2 separate regions of the Homo sapiens genome follow, and region 2 is linked to region 1. The links come from fine-mapping of genetic effects on gene expression. A gene starts in region 1. The other region holds a variant in brackets. All regions are shown on one strand. Distances are between the middles of the regions.

The links. PIP is the estimated chance that this variant, and not a neighbour inherited with it, causes the effect.
Region 2: its variant is fine-mapped to the expression of ETFB in whole blood (TOPMed, PIP 0.98).

Annotation. Positions count from the first base shown.
Region 1 is chr19:51,362,249-51,371,256 of GRCh38, reverse strand. ETFB (electron transfer flavoprotein subunit beta) reads left to right here and starts at 4,869. Exons shown (of 6, transcript NM_001985.3): 1 at 4,869-4,987. The coding sequence starts at 4,931. CLDND2 (claudin domain containing 2) reads left to right here and starts at 2,254. Exons shown (of 4, transcript NM_152353.3): 1 at 2,254-2,848; 2 at 3,231-3,371; 3 at 3,681-3,800; 4 at 4,042-4,159. The coding sequence starts at 2,680. The coding sequence ends at 4,115. RefSeq lists enhancers at 2,684-2,733, 3,144-3,243, 2,385-3,344, 4,303-5,262 and silencers at 3,424-3,753, 4,024-4,073.
Region 2 is chr19:51,433,705-51,442,712 of GRCh38, reverse strand. No RefSeq gene overlaps it. Among named protein-coding and RNA genes, the nearest start is that of SIGLEC8, 20 kb to the left of the region's middle. RefSeq lists enhancers at 661-800, 1,101-1,390 and a silencer at 3,911-4,081. The variant C/T (reference allele first, on the strand shown) is at 4,470.

The DNA.
Region 1 (9,008 bases):
CCAGCAGGGGCTCAGTCTGTGGGGTGGTGGGGAGGAGGCACTTACAGACCAGAAGCAGTTAATACAGGCCAGACAGCAGTCCCAGTGCAGGGAGAATGCCGGAAAAAGACTGACCATATTGTGGAGGGATGGAGACGACTTTTCTGGAGAGAGAACATTTAGGAGCTTCTTAAGGGCCAGGGAAAGGTAATATCCAGGCAGAGGGGCCCAAAGATGAACGTGCAGAAAAGTCAGGAGTCTTGTGGGGATGAAGATCGGTAATTTAGGGTCAGGATATAGAATGTGGGGGGCGGGGGATGGAAAATGAAGAGGGAGAGGCAGGTGGGGGCTGTGGCCTCTAATGTCATGCTGGACTTTCTCTTGAACATGATGGGGAGTTGGGAGAAAAATTGTGGGCAGGGGAGGGACAGTGTCAGCTCTGGGTGCCAGAAAGACCCCCCTGTAGACATGGAGGGGAGGCCAGAAGGTGAGGGAGGAACTTGGCAATGCAATAGGTGGGACATGATGAGGCCTGACCTGGGACCAGGAAAGGAGGGAATGAGCCAGACAGATTCAGGGGCAGGAGGAGCAGGACTTAGGGACCCAAGGCTTTTCAGGGTGAAGGGCAAGAAGAAGGTGAGGACAGTGCCCAAGGGTCTGGCTCGATGAACTGGATGGGATGGCAGGGCCATCCCTAATATGGTGGAAGACACTAAGCTCAGTTGGAATATGGTTGACTATTAAGGCCCTGAGGGGCAGCCAGGAGCAGGTGAGAACTTGAGTCAGGCTCAGGGGAGAGACCTTGGGTTGGAGATGGAGTTTTGGATGGAGCATTAAGGAGCACTGAAACTTTGGCCGTGAGGAGGCTTGCCTGGCAAGAGAGTGCAGGGTGGAGCTTCAAGGGATACCCAGATTTACAAGTGAAGGGGAGAAGGCAGAGGAGCAGAAGTCTGCAGTCAGACAGCTGGGGACCTGGAGAGCTTCTGCGGTGCCTAGAATGTCAAGGGAAGAGAAGGTTGTTTTTTTTTTTTGAGACGGAGTCTTGTTCTATCACCCAGGCTGGAGTGCAGTGGTGTGATCTTGGCTCACTGCAACCTCTGCCTCCCGGGTTCAAGCAATTCTCCTCCCTCAGCCTCTTGAGTAGCTGGGATTACAGGCGTGCGCCACCATACCTGGCTAATTTTGTCTTTTTTTTTTTTTTTTTGAGATGGAGTCTTGCTCTGTCGCCCAGGCTAGAATGCAATGGCGCGATCTCAGCTAACTGCAACCTCCACCTCCCGGGTTCAAGTGATTCTCCTGCCTCGCATCCCCAGTAGCTGGGATTATAGGCACCTGCCATCACCCCCGGCTAGCCTGGCTAATTTTTGTATTTTTAGTAGAGACGGGGTTTTGCCATGTTGGTCAGGCTTGTCTCAAACCCCTGACTTCAGGTGATCTGCCCGCCTCGGCCTCCTAAAGTGCTGGGATTACAGGCGTGAGCCACTGCGCACCCGGCCAAGGGAAAGAGAAGTTTCTAAGAAAGGGCTGGGAGTGGTGGCTCACATCCATAATGTCAGCATTTTGGGAGGCCAAGGTAGGAGGATCGCTTGAGCCCAAGAGTTTGAGATCAGATTGGGCAACATAGCAAGACCCCATCTCTACAAAAAATCTTAAGAAAATTAGCCAGGTGTGGTGGCACATGCCTGTAGTCCCAGCTACTCAGGAGGCCGAGGCAGGAGGTTTCCTTGAGCCCAGGAGTTCAAGGCTGCAGTGAGCTGTGATGGTGCCACTGCACTCCAGCCTGGGAGAGAGAGATGGCTCACGCCTGTAATCCCAGCACTTTGGGAGGCTGAGGCAGGCAGATCACAAGGTCAGGAGTCCAAGACCAGCCTGGCCAATATGGTGAAACCCCGTCTCTACTAAAAATACAAAAATTAGCCAGATGTGGTGGTGTGCGCCTGCAGTCCCAGCTACTTGTGAGGCTGAGGCAGAAGAATTGCTTGAACCCAGGAGGTGGAGGTTGCAGTGAGCCGAGATCGTGCCACTGCGCTCCAGCCTGGGTGACAGAGCAAGACTCCATCTCAAAAAATAATAATGATAATAATGATAAAAGAAGGACTCGGCCTATCATGTAACGGCCCCCAAAGCTGAGATCTGAATCTAAGCAGTCACTCAGTTGAGAGCTGCGGGGGTGTATGCGATGGTGGTGGGGGGAGTGATTATCCCTTTAAACAGCCACTGGGGGAGGGGGTTCTGGAACCCCTGGCCTCACAGAGACCCAGCCTCCCTCCCCCCGTCTCTCTGGGCTCTGTGTCTAAGGAGCCCTAGGGCACTGGGTGTGAGTCACTTAGGTGGGCCTGTGTGGAGGGGTGTCTGGGGAGGACATTGAACAGGCTGGGCTGAAAGGGCGTTCGGCTGTCGGGGGAGGTCTCTGGGAAGACAGGTTCCTCACAGCAAAGCCTGTGGTGAAGGTCTCAGAGGCCTCTCAGGGGAAGTCTCAAGGTCTCCAGTAAGGGGAACGAGGTCTGGAGGGAGGAGGTTGTGGATCCTCAGGCAGGGTTGTTGAGGGAGGGGGGTCTCCAGGTCCCCAGAAGCAGGGACCTCAGGCAGGAGTACCAGGGGAGGAGTGTGGAGGAAGCGGGCTCCTCAGCTGGGGGCCTCGGGGTAGGAAAGGCCTGGGCCCATCCTGCCCTTGTGGCCCCCGGCTGCAGCCTCAGTGGCATGGGGGTGAAGCGGAGCCTCCAGAGTGGGGGCATTCTGCTCAGCCTCGTGGCCAACGTCCTCATGGTGCTCTCCACGGCCACCAACTACTGGACCCGCCAACAAGAGGGCCACAGTGGCCTGTGGCAGGAATGCAACCACGGCATCTGCTCCAGCATCCCCTGCCAGAGTGAGGCTCCGCCCGCCCAGATGTCAGAGGGCATTTCAGACCCCCAGGGCTCGGGACACACAGCTGGGCCCATGGCGAGACGCCCACCCCTTCCACCCCGGGCTCAGTTGCAGCTGTCCCTTGTCGGCCGAGGCCGCCACGAACCCCGCCCCTCGACTTGTGGGCTTGTCCCCGACCCCCTCCCCGTCCTGGTAGCGGCAGTAACCGCAGGTCCTGATGTGACCTCCAAGTCTCAATCCAAACGCCTGACTCCCGGTCGGTGGAGCTCGGCTCCTGGCCACACACCGGGTTGGGGGCAGGAGACGGGAGAGCTTCCGGTTGCGGCCGAACCCGTAGTGACTGGGGCGGCGCCCGCGGGGGCTGATGCGCCCGCTCTCCCCAGCCACGCTGGCGGTGACTGTGGCGTGCATGGTGCTGGCGGTGGGTGTCGGCGTGGTGGGCATGGTGATGGGACTGCGGATTCGGTGCGACGAGGGCGAGTCGCTGCGGGGCCAGACCACGAGCGCCTTCCTCTTCCTCGGCGGTGAGACTGCAGACCGCCCCAGGCGGGCAGGCAGGGGCGGGCCCTGGGTGATGGAGGGGCCTGGTCGCCAGGGGAGGGGCTTGAGGTACTCGGCCAGGATCCGAGGGGCAGGGCTGGAAGAAGCCGAGAGAGGTGGGCGGGGCTCGAGACAGAGTTCAGAGCGGGAGGAGCAGGAAGGGGCCTGGGCCAGGGGCGGGCTGAGAGGCGATAGGCGTGGTCTGATAGAAGGGGGCGGGTCTGAAGGGGCGTGGCCTGGGTGCAGCCCCCACCAGGCCCAGCTAGCTCATCTTGCGGCTGGGCGGGGCCCAGGACTGCTGCTGCTGACCGCCTTGATAGGCTACACCGTGAAGAATGCGTGGAAGAACAACGTCTTCTTCTCTTGGTCCTATTTTTCTGGGTGGCTGGCCTTACCCTTCTCAATTCTCGCGGGTAAACTGGACAGCGGGAAGAGGGTGGAGGAGACTGCCCAGAAGACCCTCACCCCAGAGGCTCCCCAGCTGCCCTCCCAGGAAACCCCGGGGACCTCTCGGGGACTCCCCAACACACTAACGACTCCCGCAGACCCGGCAGAGACCCCCTTGGAGCCCCAAACCCCAGTCCCCGGGGCCCTCCCGGCCATCCGCCCCAGGGCCCACCTTCCTCTCCCTGCTCCGCACCCCCGTCCCCCCAGGCTTCTGCTTTCTGCTGGCAGACATGATCATGCAGAGCACCGACGCCATCAGTGGATTCCCCGTGTGTCTGTGACTGCAGCCTGCCTGGGGCAGAATAAAGGAACGGCTTTTTTTAGCGCTGCGGCTCCGCGTGCTTTTCTGCGGGTCGTGGGGACGCAGGCACGGGGTTGCATAGAGGCTCAGGGAAGACATAAGGACATGAACTCATAGGGAACGTGGAGACAGGGAGACACAGACATGGAGACACAAGTCTCCATGGATTGGGATGGGAACAGGGACATGTGGGAGGGGCGGGGCCAGGAGGGGACGTGGGCCTTTGGAGAGGGTGTGGAGAGGCTGTGGGGACGACATGGAGGTGAAGTAGAGACACGGACAGGGGAGGATACGGATATGGAAGGGACAGGGAACACGGGGATGGAGAGAGTGGAGAGACCGACGCGCGAGGATTCAGAGGCGTGGGAATACGAGTACCGCGACTTGGAGAGGCCGGGAAGAAGTGGGGGATCTGGAGAGGGAGAGCAGATCCGGGGATACCGGGAAGTGTTTATAGGACCGGGAGGATCTATAAACTCCGGGCGCGCTTCCCTCCAGTGCACGACCTTTCCCCTAGTTCTCTGCCCTGCCCTCTCCGCCAGGCCTTTCCTTCTCTCTCCAGGTCCCGCTCGCTCCCCGAGATCCGCTTCCCATTGGTTTGCATTGCTTGCCACACCTCCCTTCCTTCCGGCCTCTCGATTGGTCCTCTGTCGGGGAGGCGGGCTCTGCAGCGGTTGACTGGCTGACCGTGCTGCGCGCAGGCGCAGAGAGGGGCGCGGGGGGCGGGGGTGGTGGGGCTTCTGGACTGAGCCGCTGAGGGTGCGGGCTGACCCTGTAAGTGGCTGCGGCGGGAAGATGGCGGAGCTGCGCGTGCTCGTAGCTGTCAAGAGGGTCATCGACTACGCCGTGAAGGTGATCGGGCCCCCCTCTCCCACATCCCTGAGTCCCGCAGCCGTGTGCTTCCGGGGCCACGAGCGCACACTGGGTGGGGGTCTTCTCGTAACCCCCGACCTCTGCCGCTTTAACCCCCAAACGTCAAAGTCACCTGAGGGCAAAAATCCAAGAGTGAAGTTCTAACATCCGATCCCTCCGGGGTCACGGCCATGTTCTCTTTTCCCTCGTTCTGGATTCACTCTCTTGATAACTGTTCAGAGTGAGTTGCTTTCTCTATTTCTTACCCACTGGAAGAAGTCACGGTCCCTGTTTAATGCACGGAGAAACTGAGGCACAGAGAGGTCACCCAGCTAGAGAAGGGCAGAGCCGAGAGTTCTATCCAGGTTCCTCTGACTGCTTTCACCCACTAGGCTGCATTACTTACCATTGTACTCTTATATTACCCGAAATGTGCTATAGAGGGAGTCAGACAGGGTCCTGTGGGGCCCCAGAAGCTGCTTTCCACCCTCCATAGCCACAGGGTGAGCCAGGAGGCTCTAGCTAGGGAGAGAGAAGTGTGTTTGCTAGAGATGAAAGTTCAAGGAGCCAACCTGACTGAGCTGGGGGTAGCTCACATTCTCCATGAAAGAGGTGGGGGAGGGTGCTCTCAGCGCCTGGCTTGTTGTCCCCAGAGGGAAGCTGGTGTGGACAGAGGTGAATCAGACACGGTCTCTCAGGCCCGTTTCTCTCAATGCTTGGCCTGAACTGGACTGAAGATGGTGACTGTCTGTCCATGTCTGTCCTTCCCATCAGCCTGGGGACTTACCTCCGTGTCCCCAGCATTACCTAGCGCAGGGCCTGGCACCCTGGAGGCCTCAGGGTGGGCAAAACCAGGGTCACAAAGTTGACACTGATACTGCCCCTGCCTGCTTAGGGAGTGGGCTGGGGAAGAGGGTACAGGAGCCAGACTTGAGCATGAAAGTGTCAGTGATGATAGCAGCCAGCATTTAGCGGGTACTTACGTGGCAGGCATCGTTCCAAGTCCTTTGCAGAGATTAACCCATTCAGTCCTTTCAGTACCCTTTGTATTATTTATTATTTATTTTTATTTTTTGAGACGGAGTTTTGCTCTTTTTGCCCAGGCTGGAGTGCAATGGCGCAGTCTTGGCTCACTGCAACCTCAGCCTCCCGAGTTCAAGCAATTCTCCTACCTCAGCCTCCCAGGTAGCTGGGATTACAGGCATGTGCCACCACACCTGGCTAATTTTTTGTATTTTTAGTAGAGATGGGGTTTCACCATGTTGGTCAGGCTGGTCTCAAACTCCAGACCTCAGGTGATCCACCCGCCTGCCTCGGCCCCCCAAAGTGCTGGGATTACAGGTGTGAGCCACCGTGCCTGGCCGACCCTTTGTATTATTAATTCCATTGGATAGATGAGGAAACTGAGGCCTGTCAGATCTCCCAGCCAGTAAGTGGCAGAGTTACGATCGAAACCCCGGGCAAGTCTGGCTCTAGACTCTGCTCTCCCATCTCCCTCAATGCCCCCTGTCCTAATGATGCCTCTGGCAGCACATGACAGGGATGTCACCTGTAGCCCTTTTGAGACACATTCCTCTTGGGGTCCTGGGACCCAACACTTGGTTTCCTCCCTGCTCTGACTGTTCGTTACTGTCACATCTTTGGAGTCCTACAGCTCCCTGGGCCTCTTCTCTCCATCCCAGCCCTGGCCTTCCACGCCTGGCATGTCTGGGATTGGATCCGTCTCCCCCATGGTGCAGGCCCACGTTTGACTCAGCTCTGGTCCCAGCATCACTCAGCACAGAGCCTGGCACATGGATGTCTCTGGTGTGCTCAGGGAGAGAACAGAGGGGAAGCGTGAAGGCCGCGTTGAATCAGCTACTGTCCTTTCCAGAGGGTGCTGCCTTCCCCTCCCGCAGTGCCCCAGGGCTCCCTGCATTACATCCTGTCTCACTGGATGTGTCTGTTGATGTCCTTTTCAGAACAAATAAATGATTCAGACCCTGCCAGCTTCCTAAACACCAGATTAGACCTGGGTACTGTCCCACCCTCTTTCCCTTCTCCCAAAGCTGTCAGTTCTCCACCCCCCACCCTTCTTGCCCTATTGTCTCTTGGTGTCATTGTCTCACCTGGACCCTCACCCGGGTCCTCCCTCACTCCCAGTCTCTCCCTCTCAGCCCACCTCTACCCAGCCTTAGGGGCCTTTCTGCACCCAGAGCTCACCCTGCTCTCCCCTGCTCCCAGCCTGCCTGTGGCTCCCCAGCACCCTCAGGACAGAGTCGCAGCCCCTCTGCCTGGCATTTGGGATGCTTTGTGGTCCAGCCTCCTCTTCATGGTCTGCTTCAGCCGTCCACTTCCCTCCTTGGACCCTCCCTTACCCTTTGTGCTTCTGCCACTGTGACCTGCTCCTCCTGTCCTGACAGACCAGGCCGCGGCTTGCCCGTTCCATGCCTTCTTCCAGCACCACCCTCCTACCTCTGCTTTCTGTCCTTTGTCCTGCCCAACTCCAACTCATGGATTATATCAAAATCTAGTGATTCTCGGCCAGGCGCGGTGGCTCACACCTCTAATCCCTGCACTTTGTGAGGCTGAGGCGAGTGGATCAGTTGAGGTCAGGAGTTTGAGACCAGCCAGGCCAACATGGTGAAACCCCATCTCTCCTAAAAATAAAAAAATTAGCCAGGCATGGTGGCACGTATCTGTAGTCCCAGCTACTCGGGAGGCTGAGGCAGGAGAATCGCTTGAACCTGGGAGGCAGAGGTTGCAGTGAGCCAGGATTGTGTCCCTGTACTCCAGCCTGGGTGACAGAGCTAGACTCAGTCTCAAAATAATAATAATAATAATTTAGTGATTCTCCCTGGCATCGCCTCCTCCAGGAAGCCCCTGACCCTACACCCTCAGGTTGCCTTGGTATATCCCTGGGGGCTTCTGCAGTCCCTAGATTTGCTTCCATCAGCCCTCGCCAGACTGGATTGGGATCCTCTGTTTACCCCATGTTCCCCACTGCCCTACTCCATCATCCCCAGGCTGGTAGCTCCCTGCAGAGAGGGGCCATGTCTGATCCACCTCTGTTCCCAGAATCACGTGCTCACTCCCTGACCTCTTTCACCTCCTTTTCAAACATCACCTTCTCTGGGAGGACTTCCCTGCTTGCCTCCTTAAAATCACAGGCCCCAGGTCCCTGTGTTTTGCTGTGTTTTCCCCTATACTTAGCAACTAGAAAGGGAGAGGAAAGTATGTTTGCTAGAGATGAAAGTTCAAGGAGCCAACCTAACTGAGTGGAGGGAGTGACTCACATTCTCCATGAAGGAGGTGGGAGCAGGGGCACCCTCTGAGAGCCCAGCTTGTCCCCAGAGGGAAGCTGGTGTGGACACTTTGTAATCCACAGTGTTGTTTACTTATTGATTGCTCTGGTGTCTGTCGCCCCTTCTGGAATTTGAGCTCCAGGTGTGGGGGAGACAGTTTGATGTGGTCACTGCTTCCTGAGACAGTGGGTTCACTACTAGAATAGTGCAGACCTCAGACTCCAAGCCCAGCGCCTGCGTCCACTTCCTGCTGTGTGACCTTGAGGAAATTGCTTCACCACTCTAAGCCTCATTTTTCTACTCTGTACAATGGGGATGATGGTACTATCTACTTTATTGAGTTGTAATGAAAATTAAATAAGCCCTTGGAACAGTGCCTGGCACACAGTGGTTTGTTTTGTTTTATTTTTTGAGACGGAGTCTATCTCTGTTGCCCAGGCTGGAGTGCAGTGGCATGATCTCAGCTCACTGGAACCTCCACTTCCCAGGTTCAAGCAACTCTGCCTCAGCCTCCTGAGTAGCTGGGATTACACGTGTGAGCCACCACGCCTGGCTAATTTTTGTATTTTTAGTAGAAACGAGGTTTTGCTATGTTAGCCAGGCTGGTCTAGACCTCCTGACCTCAGGTAATCCACCCGCCTCAGCCTCCCAACGTGCTGGGATTACAGGTGTGAGCCACTGTGACCAGCTGCAATAAGTGTTTTTATTGGGAGTAGTAGTAATGGATGTTTAGTTAG
Region 2 (9,008 bases), 71 kb before region 1:
GGAAGGAAGGAAGGAAAGAAAGAAAAGTAAGCAAGAAAGAAAGAAAGAGAAAGAAAGAAAAAGAAAGAGAAAAACAGACAACCCTCGAGGCACAGGAAGGGCAGCGGGATGACATTTATTGGAGGTAAAAAATCACTGTATTCAGTCCGCTGTCCTCAGACACAGGACACAAACTGAAATCCACAGGGAACCAAAGTGTGGGCTGAAGACGGAGCTGTCTACATAATAGTAAAGAGCACACAAAAAAATTGGATTCTTTTCTCCTACACAACTGCTCACCTACAGGCCGTGGTGACCCGTTTTGCAAGCATGGCAGTGGTGGGCATGGTCTGGCTTTGTAGCTGGCTAGAAAGGAGAACTGTTAGCTTTTTGGCATAATTCTAAGTTCCACACCAAGGATCCTATTTTATCACTTGGGTGGTGAGTAGAGAAACAAACACAAATGCCAACAAAAAATCCGACAAGCTGGTGCCATCCTCACCATTCCCGGCATGAGTGCTGCCTGCACCGCGGCACACACAGTCTCCCCTGCTATGGCTGGTGGGCCAGTTCCGGTTCTTGACTTTGCCTCAAGAAAAGAATTCGAGAGTGAGTCCAAGGTAAAAGTAAGCAAGAGAGTTAATTGCAAAGTGAACGTGCACTCTTAACAGCTGGTCAGAGCGGCTGCTCAAAGGTGAGACAGCGCTGACTGACGCTGGGGAAACTCCCTTTAGGGGAATCTTCCGTGATTACTCATGCGTGGGTGGGACGGTGTTGCTCTTAAGCGTGTTCTGGGTGGTCTGTTAGGCCCGCATGCGCAATGGCTGTACATGCTAGTGCATATACATCGCTGTCTCAGTAGCACCTTAAGTCTCCACGTGAGGGTGTGTTTTCACTATTATAATGAGCATAGGTCAGCCCAAGGACACTACCTAAGCATGGGTTTCTGCACTTGCACGGATATGGGGACTGTCCCTTCTTCCCTTCTACCTCCTTGCTACAGGATGTTTTGACCACGAGCCCAGGATGCGGTTTATGCGCTGTCGGGGTTTGCGAGCTGTCCGGCGGATTGTTCTCTCCGTCTATTTAGCAAATGTGTTTCCCTTTAAGGGAGGCTGTGTAAGGGAGGCTGTGAAACGCCTGTCTAACCTACTTACGCTGCAGCTGCACCAGGGAGCAACACAGAGACTTCACAGGAAAACTGGAAGAAACCACAGACCTTTCTAAAGAAGCGGTGGGCAGCAGCCTACACCACGAGCCAGGCAGAAAACTGTGAGTCCCCACAGTGTGAGAAGGGGAGAGACTGACTCAGGGATGTGTATTCTTTTGTAGCCTTTCCTTCGGGTTGAAGAGCACTTAGGTTGATTCTGTATCTTTCCAATCATTGAATTTTCTCAACTTTTTGCTTTTTCTTCTCCCTCAAGAACACCTATGAGTCTTAGATTTCGGGCAAGTCTACTTTCCCCACTCAAGATGACATTGCAGATCTCAGTCGGGAGCTTCTCTCAACCCGTGACCGCCTCCTGAGTCAGCTAGCTGGCTTCTGCAAGGCCCCCTGTGAGGTAGCATCGGGAATGGCTTCCCTCTGTCCCTGCTGGAGCCCAGGACTGCACGCCAAGCACATCCCAATGTGACTCCTTATCTACTCCCCAACGCTCCCTAACTCAGCTCCAGTGCTGGGCAGGGTGAGGGCTTCCCCCTCCTGTGGCCTGGACTGCGTGGCACCCCAGTGGGAGTGCACATCCCTGAGTCAGTCTCTCCCCTTCTCACACTGTGGGGACTCACAGTTTTCTGTCTGGCTCGTGGTGTAGGCTGCTGCCCACCGTTTCTTTAGAAAGGTCTGTGGTTTCTTCCAGTTTTCCTGTTAAGTTCCTGTGTTGGTCCCTGGTGAAAAGGTCACAACATAAATCTTTATACACTGTTTCATCTTTCCAAGGTGGGAGAGGCCGGCTAACAATGCCTGCAATCTGCCATCCTCTCTTTTCAGTTTTGATGTGTTATATACACTCATGCACATATACATAATGTTTACCAAAGTGGGATCATATTCTTAAATGTCCTTTATTAGGAATTCTGAAACATTAAGGGCAAATTTAATCAGAGGAAGGTGAATATACAGCTCTGAGTGTCTAGCATATATTTACAAAATATCTCAAGTCTTCTGTATCTAGATATAATTACAAAATATCTCTGAAGTCTTCTGTTTTACTCTGAAAGTCCCTATGAATGTTTGTGGCCTATGGAAAAACACGTTTCTGTTAGTTTCAACGGGAAAATAATGCATTCATTGTCACTAAAGTTGTCTGATTGACCTGACTCAGTATTTGAGTATAAATGACATCCCCAGAAGATATGCAAAGTGGACCTTCTGCCTTTAGCTCCTCTGAAGCACTTTTCACGCCCTGCCCTTGGGTCCTGGATCCCCACTGGAGAAGCAACAGCTCTGCACCACTACTGTTAATTATTCATGGCTGCATAGTATTCCACTGAATTTGATGTGTGTTGACTTATTCAACCAATACCCTATTTAGGAGCATTAAGCTTTTTTCAATTTGTTTTGAAACAGGGTCTTGCTCTGTTGCCCAGGCTGGAGTGCAGTGGCATGATCATGGTTCACTGCAGCCTCAACCCTCCAGGCTCAGGCAGTCCTCCTGCCTCAGCCTCCCGAGTAGCTGGGACCACAAGCATGCACTACCATGCCTAGCTAATTTTTTTTTTTTTTTTGTAGAGACAGAGTCTGCCTATGTTGCCCAGGCTGATCTCAAACTCATGGACTCAAGCAATCCTCCCACTTCAGCCTCCTTAAGTGCTGAGATGTAGGCTTGAGCCACTATGCCCAGCCAGTTCTTTCCATTTAAAAAATATATATAGACAATTTTTCCCAGAAGCATATGACGGGATAGACATAATTTTTAGAGCAGTTTAGGTTCACAGATTGAGCAGAAGGTACAGAGATTCTCCATATACCACCTGCCCCCACACATGCATAACCTCCTCTATTATCAGCATCTCCCACCAGAGTGGTACATTTGTCATACTTGATGAACCTCCATTGATACGGTATTAGCACCCAAAGTCCATCGTCTATATCAGGGTTTACTATTTTGTATACACAGCAGCATGCACAGCTTTTGCCTAGTCCGATTTGTAGATCCATGAAGAATCCCAGAAGTAGACTTGTGTGGGAAACACATGAACCTTGCCCAGAGAGAAATCTGGCCTTCTGGAGCACCTTGTCCAAAACCCTGTCTCTTCAGTCAGGAATAGCAGTATCCAGGGCTCACCTGGGGGCGGGTGGCAGCCTGGGGAGCAGACCCAAGGAGCTCTCAATCCATTTCTGGAGCCCAGCTTTGTACCTTCTTACCAAGAGAGCAGAACGTCACAGTCCCTCCCGGGGCAAAGTCCTGCCCGGTGCAGCCAGAGTGCACACTAATGAACAGCCACTCCTCCCCATTTATCAGGCCTGGAGACCAAATGGAATGTTAACCTGGGATTTTTGAGGAGCTGTACACAAGGTGGGGTTCCCTACCTGCTCCCTACCAGCATCCTTGGGGCCCTGTCTAGGCAAACCCCATCACCCCAAATGTATCATATCACTAGGGGGAGCCACAGAGTTGCACAATGCATCAACCCTCATCTTTGTCTACAACCTCTGGTAGGAGTAAGAAGTGGATAGAGAAGGTGAGAGGCAGGACCTCCCAAACGGCTTCCAGAGAAAATGGGAGTGGGAAAAAAAAGTGACATTAACAATAGCAATAACATTACCAATAACCTCAGATAGTAACTACTTCCTGTAGTTACCATTCCTGTTTGGTAAGATTGTAAATCTTTGTTTTTGGGGGTTTGTTTTTTGTTTGTTTAGTTTTTTTTTTTTTCTTCTTCTTTTTTGAGACAGAGTTTCTCTCTCGTTGTCCAGGCTGGAGTGCAATGGCGCGATCTCGGCTCACTGCAACCTCTGACTCTCAGGTTCAAGCGATTCTGTCGCCTCAGCCTCCCAAAATAGCTGGGATTGCAGGCGCCTGCCACAACGCCCAGCTACTTTTTGTATTTTTAGTAGAGATGGGGGTTTCCCTATGTTGGCCAGGCTCGTCTCGAACTCCTGACCTCAGGTGATCCGCCCGCCTCGGGCTCCCAAAGTGCTGGGATTACAGGCGTGAGCCACCGCACCCGGGGAGTTTGTAAATCTTGACATAGGTTAGTCTCTGAGTGACAGGGTGGGAGTCAGGTGTCAAGAAGCATTTGGGAGTCAAAAAGGGTGGAGGAGATTGGTGCAGGGATCCTGGCAAATCTCTGGGTGAGCAGCAGGGGGCGCCCTGATCAGGGCAGGGAATGTTGAGTTGGATACACAGCCATAAGGGGGTGTCATGGGGCTGTGGGAAGTCCACGGACTCTGCCTCAGAAGGGAAATTACTTGATCTCTGTATGCCTCAGCGTCCTCATCTGCAAAGTGGACATCAGAGCTCCTACATTTATTAGCCTGAGAACAAAAA[C/T]CAGGCAGAATAAATGAACAACCACAGCAGCAACAACAAACAAGAACAAGAGCCAAAAGCAAACAGAGAGATGAGCCCTTATATCATCGGACCCTGAAATCCAGCCACCGTTGAAGCCAGGTCTACCCCTCTGATTTCCAAGACAACAGAAATCAATGCTTTTTTTCATTAAAAGCCAAAAAAAAAAAAAAAAGCATGCTATAACATTGAATAGAAACAACTATGATTTTGAATGTGAATATTAATTATACTCTTGTGGTTCCTGGGCATTGCCTGATGCATGAATTGTGGGAGAGGCAATGAGAGCTGCTACAAAGCCCTATGGAGATGGAGATCATGCAGCAAATGGCCAAGGGCCATGAGCCTTAGAAAACCTGTCCTGGGGTCGGGCGCGGTGGCTCACGCTTATAATCCCAGCACTTTGGGAGGCCGAGGTGGGCGGATCACAAGGTCAAGAGATGGAGACCATCCTGGCCAGCATGGTGAAACCCTGTCTCTACTAAAAATACAAAAATTAGCTGGGCATGGTGGTGCGCGCCTGGAGTTCCAGCTACTCGGTAGGCTGAGGCAGGAGAATCGCTTGAACCAAGGAGGTGGAGGTTGAAGTGAGCCGAGATCGCACCACTGCACTCCAGCCTGAGTGACAGAGTGAGACTCCGTCTAAAAAGGAAAAGAAAAGAAAAGGAAAGGAAAAAAGAAAGCCATACACAGTGGCTCACATCTGTAATCCCAGCACTTTGGGAGGTCAAGGCAAGTGGATCATTTGAGCCCAGGAGTTGGAGACTAGCCTGGGAAACATGGCAAAACACCATCTCTAAAAAATAGGAAAAAAGAGAAAACCTGTCCTTATAAATTATGATGGCATCTCTACATGCAAACCTGTCTCCAGAGAAGGCACATTCCCATCCGCTCAATGCTGCTCATCCTCCTTAAGGAACTGAATAAAGCTGGGCATGATGGCTCACACCTGTAATTCCAGCATTTTGGGAGGCCAAGCTGGGAGGATTACTTGAGGCCAGGAGTTTGAGACCAGCCTGGCCAACATAGCAAAACCTCATCTCTACCAAAAATTCAAAAAACTAGTGGGACGTGGTGACACACGACTGTAATCCCAGCTAGTTGGGAGGCTGAGGTACAAGAATCTCTTGAACCAAGGAGGTTGAGGCTGCAGTGAGTCAAGATCATGCCACTGCACTCCTGCCTGGGTGACAGAGACTCTGGCTTGAAAAAAAGAAAGAAATTGAATGAGCTTTTTGCCCAGTGAGGAAAGATTTCTTGTATGTAAATTCATGTGCTCTTCCTTGTTCATCAAAAGTTATTTTCTGTACACTTCACATTCTCATTGATTACTAAGAGAAATTCCTCGTACATATCAAGCTTAATTAGCTTGTACTCTATGCCCGAATATCCCTATGTGTCTCACCATGGGGTGATTCCCTGTCCACCTTACCTTTTGAGCTTAAATCTTCCTTGGCGAAATCAGAATAACCTCAAATGAGAGCATAATTTCCTACTAATTCCATGTGCAGCCTCATATTTTCTCTGTTTCAACTTCAAAGTGTTATTTATTTTAGTTCCGAAAGGATGTGTTTCTTCATATTTTCATTTAGAAACAAGGAATAGAATCTAATTGTTGGACAAAAGTCAGAGATGGAAATTCTTATAAAAAATCCTCCTTTCTTTGTCAACAAGCCCAATGTACCCTGAGAATCATTCTTATCATGGATATCGAGTGTGGGAATAGGTCAATGGGGGATTGAACCTTGAACTTCTGAGGGTTTGAACCCAGAAGTTCAAACTCCAGTCAACCTATTCGCTCATAAAAACATGGAGGAAAGAACTGGATGTGGCTCCTCGTGGCTGTCGGGAAGATGCTGTTGGAGCTTACAGGATGGAGGTGTTGCTCTCCCTTTCAGCTGCAGGAACGGCATGAGCCTTGAGCTGGGGAGACCTCACATTGCACGAACATTGCTAGCCAGAGAATGAAGATGGCTCAGGCACCTGCAGCCCACCATGCGGAGAGCAAGAAACAGCACCCTGAGGGTCACATTGGATATCAGTGATGTGCTGATCTTGACCTTGAGTTAGGAGATGTTCCCAGATTCCCCACTGCCTGGGCCAAAAATTAAGCAAACGTGTTTTTTTAATAAAACCCTTCTTTTCCAGATTAAGCTATCGGTTTTCATTTCTGTTCCTTGCAATTTAAAAAAATGAGATTATCGAAAAAATGAGCAGAGGCTTTGCTGTAAGAAATTTCTATATAGATTTTTTTTCCGCATGATTATTTGTTGATCTAAACTCATGGCATGGGAGATGACAAGGTTTCAGTAAAATGCCTGTTATGAACTGCATGTTTATGTTCCCCCAAAATTCATATGTTGAAGCCCTAACCACCAATGTGATGTATTTGGAGATGGGGCTTTTTGTAGGTAATTATGTTACATGGGGTCATGAGGGTGGGGACCCACTATGGAATTAGTGCCTGATATGGTTTGGCTGTGTCCCCACCCAAATCTCATCATGAATTTCCACGTGTTGTGGGAGGGACATTGCGGCTGGTAATTGAATCATGGAGGCAGGTCTTTCCTGTGCTGTTCTCATGATAGTGAATAATTCTCACAAGATTGATGGTTTTAAAAAGGGGAGTTTCCCTGCACAAGCTCATCTCTTGTCTGCCGCCATATGAGACATGACTTTCACCTTCTGCCATGATTGTGAGGCTTCTCCGGCCACGTGGAACTGTAAGTCCATTAAACCTCTTTCTTTGGTAAATTGCCCAGTCTCAGGTATGTCATTACCAGCAGTGTGAAAACGGACTAATACAGTGCCCTTATAAGCAGAGACCCCACAGAACTTGCTGTCTCTCAACCATGTGAGGACACAGTGAGAAGGTGGCATCTACAAGCCAGGAAACAGAGCCTCACAAGAAAACAAATCATCTGACAACTTGATCTTCTAACCTTGGACTTCTAACCTCCAGAATTGTGAGAAATAAATTTCTGTTGTTTATAGGAGGCTTAATTTATAGTATTTTGCTATGGCAGCCCAGACTAGCTAACACAGTGCCCTAACCACATGTATTCCATGTGGCTACAGTATTCTCTGCACAGTGGCCAAGTATGGTGGCTCATGCCTGTAATCCCAGCACTTTGGGAGGCTGAGGCTGGTGGATCACTCGAGGTCAGGAGTTCGAGACCAGCCTGGCCAACATGGTGAAACCTGGTCTCTACCAAAAATGCAAAAGTTAGCTGGGTGTGGCGGCGGGCGTCTGTAATCCCAGCTACTCAGGAGGCTGAGGCAGGAGAATCACTTGAACCTGGGAGGCGGAGGTTGCAGTGAGCTGAGATCGCACCACTGCACTCCAGCCTGGGCAACAGAGTGAGACTGTCTCAAAAAAAATTATACAAAGACACTTTATTTGTAAGGTAATATTTAGAAGTTCAAGGAGCTGAGACTGTATTTCTTTGGGTGGCCATTATTCAGCTTGCTGAGCTGTCCATGTGATCTCTTATGCATTGGAACTCTTGTGCATTGCTGATGGGAAAGTTAAATGGTGAAGTTGCTCTAGAGAGTAGTAGTGGGGTTCCTCAAAAAAATTAAAAATAGAATGATCTTATGATCCAGCAATTTCACCTCTGGGTATATGGCCCAAAAGATCAAAAGCCGGAACTTGAGCATAGTTTTATGCATCTGTGTTCACAGAAGCATATTCACAGTAGGTAAAAGGGAAAAGCAACCCTGCTATTCCTAAAAAGTGAATGAATAAACAAAGTGTATTGTATACATGCAATTGAATATTACTCAGCCTTAAAATAGAAGGAGAAGCTGGGCTGGGGCATGGTGGCTCACGCCTGTAATCCCAGCACTTTGGGAGGCCGAGGTGGGCATATCACTTGAAGTCAGGAGTTCTAGACCAGCCTGGCCCACATGATGAAACCCCATCTCTGCTAAAAATATAAAAATTAGCCAGGCATGATGACATGTGCCTGTAATCCCAGGTACTCGGGAGACTGAGGCAGCAGAATCGCTTGAACCTGGGAGGCAGAGGTTTCAGTGAGCCCAATCATGCCACTGCACTGCAGCCTGGGCAACAGAGCAAGACCCTATCTCAAAAAAAAAGAAAAAGAAAAAGAAAACAAAAAACAAAACAAACAAAAAAACCAAGGAGACAGGCATGGTGGCTCACACCTGTAATCCCAGCACTTTGGGAGGCCGAGGCAGGTGGATCACCTGAGGTCAGGAGTTCGAGACCAGCCTGGCCAATATGGTGAAACCCCATCTCTACTAAAAAAAAAAAAAAAAAGAAAAGAAAATACAGGCCGGGCACGGTGGCTCACGCCTGTAATCCCAGCACTTTGGGAGGCCGAGGCGGGTGGATCACCTGAGGTCAGGCATTTGAGAGCAGCCTGACCAACATGGTGAAACCCTATCTCTACTAAAAATACAAAATTAGCCAGGTGTGGTGGCACGTACCTGTGATCCCAGCTACTCGGGAGGCTGAAGCAGGAGAATTGCTTGAACCTGGGAGGTGGAGGTTGC